Linked DNA regions of Homo sapiens. The protein of the gene in region 1 interacts with the protein of each later gene in a biochemical or structural test. Each region holds a gene or a part of one and is shown in the gene's direction. Other genes may lie near its edges.

Region 1 (7,023 bases):
GGGCTTGTAAAATGTCAATTTCCCTTGACATTTTAAACAGTTTAGAGTCAGGCAGCAGTTTTGGTTGTTAGACTGATGATTTTACAGGACCCAGGGCCCTTTCTGTCTGCCAAGTAGTTTATCATCACTTACAAGAGATTATTGTGATTATTCTCTAATATTCAGAGAGGTTGGATGATGGGCTGAAGGTCACACAGCAAGTCAGAGGCAGAGCGGGATTACAACCTGCAGTGTGTGGTTGAGCAGAATAGCTCTCCAGCAGAGGCTGAGGGCCAAATCTGAGCTGTCAGGCCCTTGAAGATAACTGTAGCTGAAATAGTGGAGGCTTAGAGAGGGGAGGGGACTTGCTCAAGGTCACACGGAAGGGGATGTTAGCGGAACTGAGCGCCAGGCGGTGCACCTGGAAGAGCAGCAGGGAACCTGGCGAGGCCGCAGGAGCTCTCCCGCTCGCGTTCCTCCATGGCCCGCGGGATTGCTGCCTTCCGGGGGAGATGGGATCGCAGCGGGAGGCGCCGCGGGGCTGCGGCTGCGCCGGCCCAGCCGCGGGGAAACGCCAAGGGCCGCCCGGCTCCCCGCGCGGCGGCGTGAGGGCTGGCTAATGTCACGTGAGAAGCGTGCAGTCGGCGTGAGGGAGCACACCTGGAGCCAGATAAGCTCCGTGTGACCTGGCAGGGAGTCACCCGGCGCTGCGGAGCTCAGCACAGCCGGCCGGGAGGAGGCTCCCCCTGGAGCACGGGGCCAGGCCAGGTGCTGGCTACCCCTCCGGCCGCTGCTACAACCCTTGGCGAGGGGCAGAGCGCGGGGAGAGAGCCGGGGTCCCGGGGCTGGAGGAAACGGCCGCTCAGGGAGGTCAGAGGCCAAGGGAGAGAGGCCGGCTCTCTCGGGAAAGTATTTCCTTTGTATTTATTTATGAGTGTGGTCTGGGGGTGGGGGTGGGAGGACTGACCTAAGTATCTATCCACCACAGCCAACTCTGGGCACCCTTGTCTTGGGACTCTAACGTTATAGTTTCCATTTCCTGGGTTTTTTTTTTCTTTTGCCAGCTGCTAGGTGACCCATTTAAATGTGTCCCCACTTACAGCCACAAGACACCAGTGAACTCTATTTTAACCAAGTCCCCCAAGCCACTGAAACTTTTTCAAGACATGAAGGCAATCCTTAAACTGACCATTACCCTGTTTGCAGCTTTACTGCTGGTGGATTGCCTACTAGTTTGTCCATTTTTTTTTAGTCTGGAAAAAAGTTGAATCATTAGGTAGAAAGCTAAAGCGTTACTAAAGTGTTACCCTTCTTCTCCCCTACTCTCCAGAGATGACCACTGATAAATTTTTGGATCGAATTTTTCCAGACTGCTGTTTTTTTTGAGAAGGAGTCTCGCTCTGTCACCCAGGCTGGAGTGCAGTGGCGCAATCTTGGCTCACTGCAACCTCCGCCTCCGGGGTTCAAGCAATTCTCTGCCTCAGCCTCCCGAGCAGCTGGGATTACAGGCGCCCGCCACCACGCCCGGCTACTTTTTTGTATTTTTAGTAGAGACAGGGTTTCACCATCTTGGCCAGGCTGGTCTTGAACTCCTGACCTCGTCATCCACCTGCCTCGGCCTCCCAAAGTGCTGGGATTACAGGTGTGAGCCACTGCGCCTGGCCAGACTGCTTTTTAAAAGCTTGTTATATATATTTTAGGCACTATATATGTTTATAGTTTAATATATGTTTTATAAAATATCATCTTATATAAATATTTAAAAAATTTCTGTAGTAGGCCGGACACAGTGGTTCACACCTGTAATCCCAGGACTTTGGGAGGCTGAGATAGGCAGATTGCTTGAGCCCAGGAATTTGAGACCAGGCTGGGCAACATGGCAAGACCCTGTCTCTACAAAAAATACAGAAGTTAGCTGGGTGTGGTGGCGAGTGCCTGTAGTCCCAGCTACTCAGGAGGCTGCGGTGGGAAGGATCGCTTGAGTCCCAGGAGGTTGAGGCTGCAGTGAGCCGAGATCGCACCACACTCTAGCCTGGAGGACACAGTGGGACCCTGTCTCAAAAAAAAAAAAAAAAAAGATGAAATAAAAGTAGAAGAAAAATGATAGATAATTCCACTCCCTGAAGCTCCTAGGTGTAAGCAAATACACATTTACCAGATGAATGTTCTTATAAAAAATTAAAATATAGCCCGAGTGCGGTGGCCCATGCCTATAATCCAGTACTTTGGAGGCCAAGGTGGGTGGACCACTTGAAGCCAGGAGTTCAAGATCAGCCTGACCAACATGGTGAGACCCCATCTCTGTTATTTAAAAAAAAAGAAAAAAAATTAAAATATGGATGAAACACAAGTCTATTTGACCCTTCTAAAATTCCAGTCTCCTCCCCAGAGCATATATTTTTCCTACACATATGCAAATATTGTACACAACGTACATGTAATATATTCATGCACATATATAGATATAGGTTTTTAAATTTTAGCAAAATTATAAACTATCCTGCAACCTATTTTTTCACTTAACAATATAGTATAGAATCTTTCCAGGTCAGTGTATACAAATCTACTTCATTCTTTTTACTTTTAATTATACAACTGCTCAGTTGTATAATTTAGCTTTTTTTTTTGAGACAGAGTCTCGCCCTTTCGCGCAGGCTGGAGTGCTGCAATGGCGTGATCTCGGCTCACTGCAACCTCCGCTTCCTGGATTCAAGCGATTCTCCTGCCTCAGCCTCCTGAGTAGCTGGGATTACAGGTGCGCCACTACGCCGGCAAAGTTTTGTATTTTTAGTGGAGATGGGGTTTCACCATGTTGGCCAGGCTAGTCTCGAACTTCTGACCTCAAGTGATCTGCCTGCCTCAGCCTCCCAAAATGTTGGGATTACAGTTGTGAGCCACCATGCCCAGCATTTTATTTTTTTTTATTTTTTTTATTTTTTGAGACATAATCTCCCTCCACCCAGGCTGGAGCACAGTAGCACGAATCTTGGCTCATGCAGCCTTGACTTCTAGGCTCAAGTGATCCTCCCACCTCAGCCTCCCAAGTAGCTGGTATCACAGGTGTGCACCACTGCCTAGCTACTTTTAAAAAATTTTTTTGTAGAGTCAGAGTCTCACTGTGTTGTCTAGGCTGGTCTCAAACTCCTGGACTCAAGCAGTCCTCCCGCCTTGGCCTCCCAAAGTGCTGGAATTAGAGGCCTGAGCCGCTGCACCTGGCCAGTTTTACTATTCTCTAGTAAGGACTTTTATATTTATAGACTTGCTATTATAAACAATGCTGCAAGGATTAGCCATGTATATTATGTGAATGTACCTATAGATGTCTTATAATGGAATTGCCCAAAGAATATGTACATAAATATTTTCATATGCCAGGTGCAGTGGTGGTGCCTGTAATCCTAGCTACTCAGGAGGCTGAGGCAGGAGGATTGCTTGGGGCCAGGAGTTTGAGACCAGCCTGGACAGAATAGCAAGAACCTGTCTCTAAAACAATTTTTAAAAAGTTAGCCAGTAATGGTGGCGCACACCTGTAGTCACAGCTACTCAGGAGGCTAAGACAGGAGGATCACTTGAGCCCAGGAGTTCAAGTCTGTAGTGATCTATGATTGAGCCACCAAACTCCAGCCTGGGTGACAAAGCAAGACCTTGTCTCTTAAAAAAATTTTTTTTTTTCACAGATACCACTGACTTGACCTCTGAAAATACATTAGTTGGTGCAAAAGTAATTGAGGTTTTTGCCATTAAAAAGTAACGGCAGGCCGGGTGCGGTGGCTCACGCCTGTAATCCCAGCACTTTGGGAGCCGAGGCGGGCGGATCACGAGGTCAGGAGATCGAGACCATCCTGGGTAACATGGTGAAACCCCGTCTCTACTAAAAATACAAAAAATTAGCCAGGCGCGGTGGCGGGCGCCTGTAGTACCAGCTACTCGGGAGGCTGAGGCAGGAGAATGGCGTGAACCCGGGAGGCGGAGCTTGCAGTGAGCAGAGATCGTGCCACTGCACTCTGGCCTGGTGAAAGAGCAAGACTGCGTCTCAAAAAAAAAAAAAAGGGCCGGGCGCAGTGGCTCAAGCCTGTAATCCCAGCACTTTGGAAGGCCGAGGCAGGCAGATCACCTGAGGTCAGGAGTTCAAGACCAGCCTGACCAACATGGAGAAACCCCGTCTCTACTAAAAATACAAAATTAGCCGGTCATGGTGGCGCATGCCTGTAATTCCAGCTACTCAGGAGGCTGAGGCAGGAGAATTGCTTGAACCCGGGAGGCGGATTGCAGTGAGCTGAAATCGGGCCATTGCACTCCAGCCTGGGCAACAAGAGCGAAACTCCGTCTCAAAAAAAAAAAAAGTAACGGCAAAAACCATAATTACTTTTGCACCAACCTACCAATTTGTGTTTCCACCAAGACTTATGAGACTCCCTGCATCCCATGCCCTAATTGATTGATATTATCAACCTTGATAGTTTTTACTAAACTGCTAATTGAAAATAGTATACCTCAATTTCACATGTCTGTGAATGTTATGGAGGCTGAATACCTGTTCATGTTTGATGGCCATTTGTATTTCTGCCCCTACAAATTGCCTGTCCATAGTATCCTTGGCACTAGCTACGTGGGCCCTCTGGACTCAAGCCAGTGTGATCCAGCTTGGCCTTGTGCTTATCAAGTTACCTTCACTTCTTTGGGCTTTACTTTCCATGTACAAAGGTTTTGACTTATTTTAGTCATACTTGTGTACTCTGTTATCCTCTCTACTGTGTCATTTAGACTGCAAAAACTGTGCCCTGCTACTATTAGGTACCTCTCTGAGGGTAATTAAATATATTTCATTTAATTCCCCCACCTTAGGTGGTAGGTACCATTATTATCTCCATTTTTATAGATGGGGAAATGGAGGCATGGAGGCCTTAAGTGATTTGCCTGAGATTTCATAGCTATTTACTCATATTTTTTTTCATTTTTATTTAATTTTTTTTTTTTTAGACAGAGTCTTGTTCTGTCGCCCAGGCTGGAGTGCAGTGGCATGATCTCGGCTCACTGCAACCTCTGCCTCCCAGGTTTCAGCGATTCTCCTGCCTCAGCCTCCTGAGTAGCTGGGATTACAGGCGCATGCCACCATGCCCAGCTATTTTTAGTAGAGACAAGGTTTCACCGTGTTGACCAGGCTGGTTTCGAACACCTGATCTCAGGTGATCTGCCCTCCTCGGCCTTCCAAAGTGCTAGGATTACAGGCGTGAGCCATTGCGCCCGGCCCTGTTTACTCAGATTTGTTCACAGGTTTGTTACTTGATATCCAAAGCCTGAGCTCTGACACTGGGCTTACTTATCTTTATGTTGCTTGCCTTTAGGAAGTGGCTGATAGATACATATTTTTTCCCAAAATTTTATCACAATGACCTGCAAACATTCAGAAAAGTTAAAGAATTTTGCAACGAATACCCTCCATTTCCTAGATTCTACAATTAACATTTTCCTATCCTTGCTTTTACACATCTGTATCCCTTGATCCATCCATCAGGCTATGGTTTTTTTTTTTTTTCTTTCTTTCTTTTGAGACAGGGTCTTACTCTGTTACCCAGGCTGGAATGCAATGGCATGATCGTGGCTCAATGTAGCCTCGACCTCCCAGGCTCAGGTGATCTTCCCACTTTAGCCTCCCAAGTAGCTCCCACAGGCATGCACCACCACATCCAGATAATTTTTTGTATTTTGAGTAGAGACAGGGCTTTGCCATGTTGCCCAGGCTTGTCTCCGACTCCTGAGCTCAAGCGATCTGCCCGTCTCGGCCTCCCAAAGTGTTGGGATTATAGATGTGAGCCACCTTGCCCAACCTCATCAAGCTGTCTTAAAATTTTACACATCTCAAAGTAAAACGTAGACATCAGTATATTTCGCCCCAAATACTTTAACATACATATCATTCACTAGAGTTCAATATTTGTTTATAGTTCTTTTCTTTTGAGTGGATATTTACAAACAATGAATGCACAAATCTTTTTTTTTTTGAGATGGGGTCTTGCTCTGTCTCCCAGGCTAGAGTGCAGTGGCGCAATCATCTTGGCTCACTGCAACCTCCGCCTCCCAGGTTCAAGCGATTCTCCTGCCTCAGCCTCCCTAGTAGCTGGGACTACAGGTGTGTGCTGCCACGCCCGGCTAATTTTTTTTATTTTTATTAGAGACGGGGTTTCAGGATGGTCTCGATCTCTTGGCCTCATGATCCACCTGCCTTGGCCTCCCAAAGTGCTGGTATTACAGGCGTGAGCCAACGCGCCTGGCTGAACGCACAAATCTTATGTGCACCATTTGATAACTTGACAAGTGCATATACTTATCAACCCAAACCGCTATCAATATACAGGACATGAATATCACCCCAAAAAGTTCCCTCATGCGATCCCACTCCTACCCCCACCATAGGTTAGTTTTGCCTGCACTAGAACTTCATATAAAGAGAATCATACCCATATGTGCTCTTTGTCAAAGACTTCTTTCCCTCTCACTTGACATCATGATTTTGAAGTCCATCCCCATTGTGTGTATCTTTAGTTGTTTCTTTTTTCTTGCTGAGTAGTATTCCATTGCATGAATATGAGCATTGTTTATGCACTCTGATGGACAGATAGATGTATATTTGAGGTTGATGGTCATTGCCTTCGGGATGCTTACTCTCTTAAAGTGATAGAGCAGCTGAGTTGACAGATTGTACTTTCTTTTTGTTTTTGGGGATAGTAAGAGCAAGATTATTCGGGTCCATACCCTAACTTACATAGATGCCTTCCTTTTCTTAAAATTAGGAAAAACTTCTTAGAGTATGATGAGGAGAGAAACGCAGAAAAGGAGGTCAGGAAAATTATAAGGTTACCTTTACTGGAGTGGAGGGAGAGGGTAGGAGAGGAATGGGAGGCAGATGGAAACTGCAGCCCGGGATAGGGGGTAGGAAGGTAGTGGTATCAGAGCTGTTGGAGACTTTGGACCTGAGGCCAGGAGGTGCCGGAAAGTGCAAGGTCTACAAGAAGGCCATGGAGCAGCAGTCGCATTGCAGATCTG
Region 2 (7,055 bases), on another chromosome or scaffold:
ATGATCTGTCTTTTGCTACAGGGCCTTTGCATATTTCCTCTCAGGAATGTCCTCTACCTCCAACTTGGTTAACTTCAGTTCATTCTTTGGCTTATGACTTCTTCAGAGCAGCTTTGAGTCCCAGATAAAAACTTAGGTTTCTCACATATATGACAGTACATGATCTCATAGGACTGTATTCCTTCTTTCAAAGCATTTCTACATTTCTACATTAATTAGCATCAGGATTTGCTTAATATCTGTGCCCTTCATTAAACTGTCAGTTTCATGAAAAGTATGGCTATGTCTCTTTTGGCTTAGTATTGTATCTTTATTGCTTATGACAATGCCTGGCATGCAGCAAACATGTAGAAATATACTTGTTTGATACTGAATTAAGGACCAGGGTTCTAATCCAGGTCTGTGATTTTCCAGAAGTGTTAAGTTGGGCAGATTACTTAACTTCTCTGAACTGTTTCTTCATAGGTAAAATGGGCATCTTAATCTGTGTTCCCTAGGAAGCAGGGCCTAAGACAAAGTCTTTTGTGCTTTATTAGGGAGTGCAACAGCTGGGAGCAGAAGCTAGTGGAGGGAAGCGAGGAGTGAAGGGGTCGTTGAGCTTGCTGGAGCTAAATGCTACTGAGAAGTTGTATAAACGATCTCAGGACAGTTCATGTGAGGAAAGAAAGGGGTCCTGTTATCCACCTGCTTGAAGTGCTTACTCTCCCACACTTGTAGGTAGGCATGGAGGTGCTGCCAGACCGCACTGCATGAGATGGTTGCAGTCCATGTGGAGCTGGTCAGCACAGCAGCAGCACCTAACCTGCAGGGTCCTGGTGGGGGTTGCTGGAGACCGCGCCTGGCACATCTCAGCAGGCAATAAACAAACAATCAAGGCCAGGCGCGGTGGCTCATGCCTGTAATCCCGGCACTTTGGGAGGCCGAGGCTGCTGGATTGCCTGAGGTCAGGAGTTCAAGACCAGTCTGGCCAACATGGTGAAACCCCGTCTCTACTAAAAATACAAAAAAATTAGCTGGGCGTGCCAGGCGCGGTGGCTCACGCCTGTAATCCCAGCACTTTGGGAGGCCGAGGCGGGCAGATCACCTGAGGTCAGGAGTTCGAGACCAGCCTGACCAACATGGAGAAACCCCGTCTCTACTAAAAATACAAAATTAGCCAGGCGTGGTGACACATGCCTGTAATCCCAGTTACTCGGGAGGCTGAGGCAGGAGAATCGCTTGAACCTGGGAGGCAGAGGTTGCGGTGAGCCGAGATTGCGCCATTGCACTCCAGCCTGGGCAACAAAACTCCGTCTCAAAAAAATAAATAAATAAATAAATAAATAAATTAGCTGGGCGTGGTGGCATGTGCCTGTAATCCCAGCTACTCGGCAGGCTGAGGCAGGGGAATTGCTTGAACCTGGAGGTGGAGGTTGCAGTGAGCCGAGATCACGCCACTGCACTCCAGCCTGGGCGACAGAATGAGACTCTGTCTCAAAAATAAATAAATAAATAAATAAAAATTTTTTAAAAAGTAACACTCATTGTTGTAATTAGGAATATTCTCATTCCTAAAATTCCTTCTTTTTTCCTTCCTAAAATATCCTTTCTTCCTCTTCCTGTTTTTAAAATATCTCCTTCCTTCCTCCCTCACTTCTTCCCCAGCTGCCCTCCACCCCCACCCATCATGATGGCTGGGGGTGGAGGGCAGCTGGGGAGGAAAAAAGCTGCATAGACTTTCATGACCTGAGAAGTGCCACACAGTCATGTTGGCCACATTCTATTCATTTCAAGAGAGTCACTAAGTCTGGCCCACACTCAGGGGGAGGGAAATTAGGCTTCACATTTTGAGGGGAGGAGTATCAGAGGATTTGTTGGCATTAAAACCTTCAGGAGAGAAAGGAGAACAACTGGGTGAACAGGGGCAGAGCTGGGAGGGAGATTTTCACTACACATATCTTTGTACTCTTTGAACTACATACTTGACTATATTAGTCAAGTAATTTTTTTTTTTTTTTGAGACGGAGTCTCGCTCTGTCACCCAGGCTGGAGTGCAGTGGCGCAATCTCTGCTCACTGCAAGCTCCGCCTCCGGGGTTCACGCCATTCTCCTGCCTCAGCCTCCCGAGTAGCTGGGACTACAGGGGCCCGCCACCACGCCCGGCTAATTTTTTGTATTTTTAGTAGAGACGGGGTTTCACCGTGTTAGCCAGGATGGTCTCGATCTCCTGACCTCCTGATCCGTCCGCCTTGGCCTTCCAAAGTGCTAGGATTACAGGCGTGAGCCAACGCGCCCAGCCAATTTTTTTTTTTTTTTTTTGAGACAGGGTCTTGCTCTGTCTCTCAGGCTGGTGTGCAGTGGCACGATCACCCTCATGGCAGCCTCAAATTCTGGGCTCAAGCGGTTCTCCTGCCTCAGCCTCCCGAAGACCTGGGACTACAGATGTGGGCCACTACTCCTGATTAACTTTTTTCACATAATAAATTAATTACATTTATTTTACAAAGAAATATTTCAAGCTACAACATTTGGTAAAATCAGAAAAGATGAAGAAAAAAGGTCCAAAGAGGGTGTGGGCTGGCGCGGTGGCTCACGCCTGTAATCCCAGCACTTTGGGAGGCCAAGGCCGGCGGATCACGAGGTCAGGTGATCGAGACCATCCTGGCTAACACGGTGAAACCCCGTCTCCACTAAAAATACAAAAAATTAGCCAGGCGTGGTGGCGGGCGCCTGTAGTCCAGCTACTCAGGAGGCTGAGGCAGGAGAATGGCGTGAACCCGGGAGGCAGAGCTTGCAGTGAGCCGAGATTGTGCCACTGCACCCCAGCCTGGGCAACAGAGCAAGACTCCGTCTCAAAAAAAAAAAAAAAAAAAAAAAAAAGAGGGTGTGAATGGGAGAAATTGGTTGAGGTGAAATCGACCTTCACCAAGACAGGTGGGAAAAAGGGAAGGTCTACTTGGTGTGCCCCCTGGACCCTCTCTTCCCTTCATTTAGCACTGTCACTTTCCAGGGCATGGGATGGTAGGCAGCAGCAGTTCTGGATAATGGATTTGTGGAAGAGAAGAATCCATCTAAAGCACTCTTTAGCCACAGCCCATGATCACTTTTTTTAAAAAATTTTTATTTTTTGCTTTGCTGTTGTTCCACTCTGTCCATACATTGTTTAATACAGGATGGCACACAATACCATTCCTGGTTAAATGTTTCACTTAACAAGCGCCACCCTCTACTCCTCCAACTCCTGTCTCAGGTTTGACAGCTATTTTTTTAACCTAATTTGCGCACGCCAAGAGGATTTCACCTAGTAACTACACGGAGAGACATCCGATGCGTACAAAGACGTGGCATGAAACGCTGCAGGTTTATTGTCTCTATAAAAAGATCGTTAAGGTCGAGCGTGCTAACGTGTGCGGTACTAACTGTACTCACTACGCCCTGGTCACTTTATAGCACAAGTCCGAGGCAAGGAAAGAAGTTTTACAAACAAAACTGGTCAACTGTTCTATCTTCTTACTCCTGGAAAACAATAAAGGTCCACTTTCAAACCATTTGGACGCACTTGCTCCTTCTAAAGGGTTAGGGAGTCCCGGCAGATAGCGTACCCCTCCCCGCCCAGCAGCAGAGAGCAAAGTCCTTCCTGCCGATCCTGCAGACCCCGGAGTCCAAATGGGACCCCGTCCACACGACCGCGGAGTCGCCTCCGAAGACGGCGGTGTCTGGGGCGTGGAGGGCACGGCTGGAGGCTGAGTGGGGTCCACCTTCGCGTGGCCCAGGCTCTTCCATTCACGGGGGGCCCCGCCAGGTTCAGGCTCCAGCCCTGGGTAGTGAAGGGGAAACGGGGAACGGAAGGAGGGAGGGCACGTCACGGGAGCAGGACTGCAGGACCGCGGGTCAGGGGGCGCAGGAACGCCAAAGAAAAGACAAGCACCGAGGGCCGGGAAGGGTGTAGGCTGCAGTGGCAGCGGATCCCCGGCCGCCGCTTCCGGCGCCTCCCGGCCCAGCTCTCCCGCGCCGACTCTGCCACATCCTCCGGTGACGTCAGCCGGGGCCGCCATATTGGAAAGGCGCCGCCGCCGCCTCCGCCTTGGAGCTCGGGGTGTTTCGGGGACTGCGGCCACAGGCAGGAAGGCGCTCCTCTCCTGCCCCGCCGACGCCCGGCCAGCCCGCTTCGCCCTGACCTGTTTCCTCATGACTGCCCCCGGCCCTGCTGCCGACGGACGTCGCCCCGGCGTCCGGATTTAACACGGAAACCCGGATCGGAGGCCGCGCGGGGAGGAGGAGGGCGACCCGGTCGGTCCTGCGACCCTCTCGGCCCGGCTCGGCGCCTCGGCGGGAGCCATGACCTCGCTGACCCAGCGCAGCTCCGGCCTGGTGCAGCGGCGCACCGAGGCCTCCCGCAACGCCGCCGACAAGGAGCGGGCGGCGGGCGGCGGCGCCGGCAGCAGCGAGGACGACGCGCAGAGCCGCCGCGACGAGCAGGACGACGACGACAAGGGCGACTCCAAGGAAACGCGGCTGACCCTGATGGAGGAAGTGCTCCTGCTGGGCCTCAAGGACCGCGAGGTGCGGGCGCGGCGGGCTGGGCGGGGGGCGGCGGCGCGGGGCCCGGGCGCCAGGTGAGCTCCAGGTAGGTGCCAGGTGAGCGCCCGAGGCTTCCGGCCCGCGCACCTGCCCTCGCTCCGAAGTCCGCGCCTGGTGGCGCCCAGCTGACGCCGAGCGGTGTCGGAGTTGGTTGACCCCCTGGCGCGGCTGGTGCTTTCTGGATCCTCCCCGTAGAGATGGCTTGGATTTTTCCTTACCCCTTTCACAGTCGCTCCTTTCATTTCGACACCCTGGCAGTTTGTATTTCTTCGTCGCCTTTTTTCCGCGTTTTTAACCCGTGTAGACCCCAGGGTGCAAATCCAACCCGGAGACTGCCCGGGAAACTAACAGCTGGAGCCACCAGCGCCACGAACTCTTTGGGTTTTTGCAGGCTTTAGGACCTGGGAGGGGTGCCCGGATCTGCTTGCTGGGGATGTTTTTTTTTTCTTCTTCTTCAGTTAAAGCTTACTGTTGGGAATTACGAAAAACGTAGGCGAAGTGGTAATAGAGGGAAAAGCTCTTTTACTGAGTAAAGTTAAGTTAAGTTTCTCATGAAACCTCCTGGTAAATGACTTTCTAGGTGAACTTACATTAGGTGAGAGATTATTTTTAGTATCGCTTTTATATTTTATCAGTTGATGAATCTCAAAGTCTTGCCGTCTTAAGAAAGGGCTTTTTCATCGAGTGCTTGAAATGTAGGTTTGTGAGTTGATCAGAGGCCTCAAAGCTTCAGGTGGGTTGAAGTTGCAATAGATAATTCTTTGTATTCTGACTTTGAAAGCGTTTATTTTCACTTCAGTGTCCAAAATTTTCACACACAGAAAAGTTGAAAAAGTGATAGATACATATGCATATATACTCTTTCTAGATTCTATGACGTTTTGCTGTATTTGTTATATTTGCCTACAAAAATGATTATTTATTTATGTGGAGACGGAGTTTCGCTCTTGTTGCCCAGGCTGGAGTGCAATGCCGCGATCTCGGCTTACCGAAATCTCCGCCTCCCGGGTTCAAGCGATTCTCCTGCCTCAGCCTCCTGAGGCAGGCATGCGCCACCATGCCCGGCTAATTTTGTGTTTTTGTTTTGTTTTGTTTTTGAGACGGAGCCTCAGTTTGTCGCCCAGGCTGGAGTGCAGTGGCGCGATCTCCACTCACTGCAAACTCCGCCTCCCGGGTTCAAGCGATTTTCCTGCCTCAGCCTCCCGAGTAGCCGGGACTACAGACGTGCGCCGCCATGCCCAGCTAATTTTCATACCTTTAGTAGAGACGGGGTTTCACCATGTTGGCCAGGATGGTCTCGATCTCTTGACCTAGTGATCCGCCTGCCTCGGCCTCCCAAAGTGCTGAAATTACAAGCTTGAGCCACCGCGCCCAGGCCTGATTTTAAGAAAGTTTTCCAAATTCAGGAAGGTGGGCAAAAAAAAAAAAAAAGTCTTACAAAACAACGTAATCTTTCTTGGTCACTGAAACTTACTAGATATAGGCGAGTTTTATATGGACCGTTTATGGACCTTTCTTATTTAGAAATCTAATGAACTAACGGTTAGCTTGATAGATACGTCTGGGGCATTTGCCATATCTTGGTTTCCCATTTCTCAGGTTTTAATAACAGTAACCTTGAAAAAAGTTGATGTTCCTCTGGCTGTGAAAGGGCTGCTGTACCTGTTTAATTATTGAGTTGTGATGATAAAGCAGGCTGTATGTGCAGTTCCTTGTTCTTTGGATGAAAAAGTAAACTAGGGGTATAGCGTCCTAGTAATGTAATTTTTAGAAAATATTCAACTTTAGGTTTCAAAATTGGAAATCTTGATTATAAACATTTGTCTTTTTTTTTTTCTTTTTTTAGACGGAATCTCGCTCTGTCGCCCAGGCCTGGAGTGCAGTGGCGCCATCTGGGCTCACTGCAACCTCCCCCTCCCGGGTTCAAGCGATTCTCCTGCCTCAGCCTCCCAAGTAGCTGGGATTACAGGCATGCACCACCACGCCCTGCTAATGTTTTTATTTTTAGTAGAGACGGGGTTTCACCATGTTTGTCAGGCTGCTTTTGAACTCCTGACCTCAAGTGATCCACTTGCCTCGGCCTCCCAAAGTGCTGAGATTACAGGTTTGAGCCACCACGCCCGGCCATAAACATTTTTCTTTTTGGACAAAAATAACATTATTATAGACATTTTAGAAAATACAAAAAAAAAGAAAAGCAAAATTAAAACATATTCCTGAGTGAACATTTTGGTTTATAGTTTTTGAGAGTTTTCCGTGTGGATAAAACTCGGTGGAAAACAAAAACCTGAAAAAAAAAAAACTAAAAAATAAGCTTTTGGTGTTCTGAGTCACACTGAGAAATTATAGTGAGGAAATACCTATTTGTTTTTTCAAGTACATGTTACTCTAAATCAAGCTTTTCCAACCCGCGGGCCAAATGTGGCCCAGGATGGCTTTAAATGCGGCCCAACATAAATTGGTAAATTTTCTTAAAACATTATGAAATTTTTTTT

Evidence for each region. The genes of interacting proteins can lie anywhere in the genome.
Region 2: the proteins of MYO18A (region 1) and GOLPH3 form a complex in vitro, tested with the Homo sapiens proteins (2 studies listed by IntAct).

Annotation. Positions count from the first base shown.
Region 1 is NC_000017.11:29,170,398-29,177,420, reverse strand, and holds part of MYO18A (unconventional myosin-XVIIIa), read left to right. Parts: intron 1-647; exon of another isoform or gene 648-849; intron 850-7,023.
Region 2 is NC_000005.10:32,171,297-32,178,351, reverse strand, and holds the start of GOLPH3 (Golgi phosphoprotein 3), read left to right. Parts: upstream 1-4,032; 5' UTR 4,033-4,317; coding exon 4,318-4,542; intron 4,543-7,055. UniProt on the Homo sapiens protein: Phosphatidylinositol-4-phosphate-binding protein that links Golgi membranes to the cytoskeleton and may participate in the tensile force required for vesicle budding from the Golgi.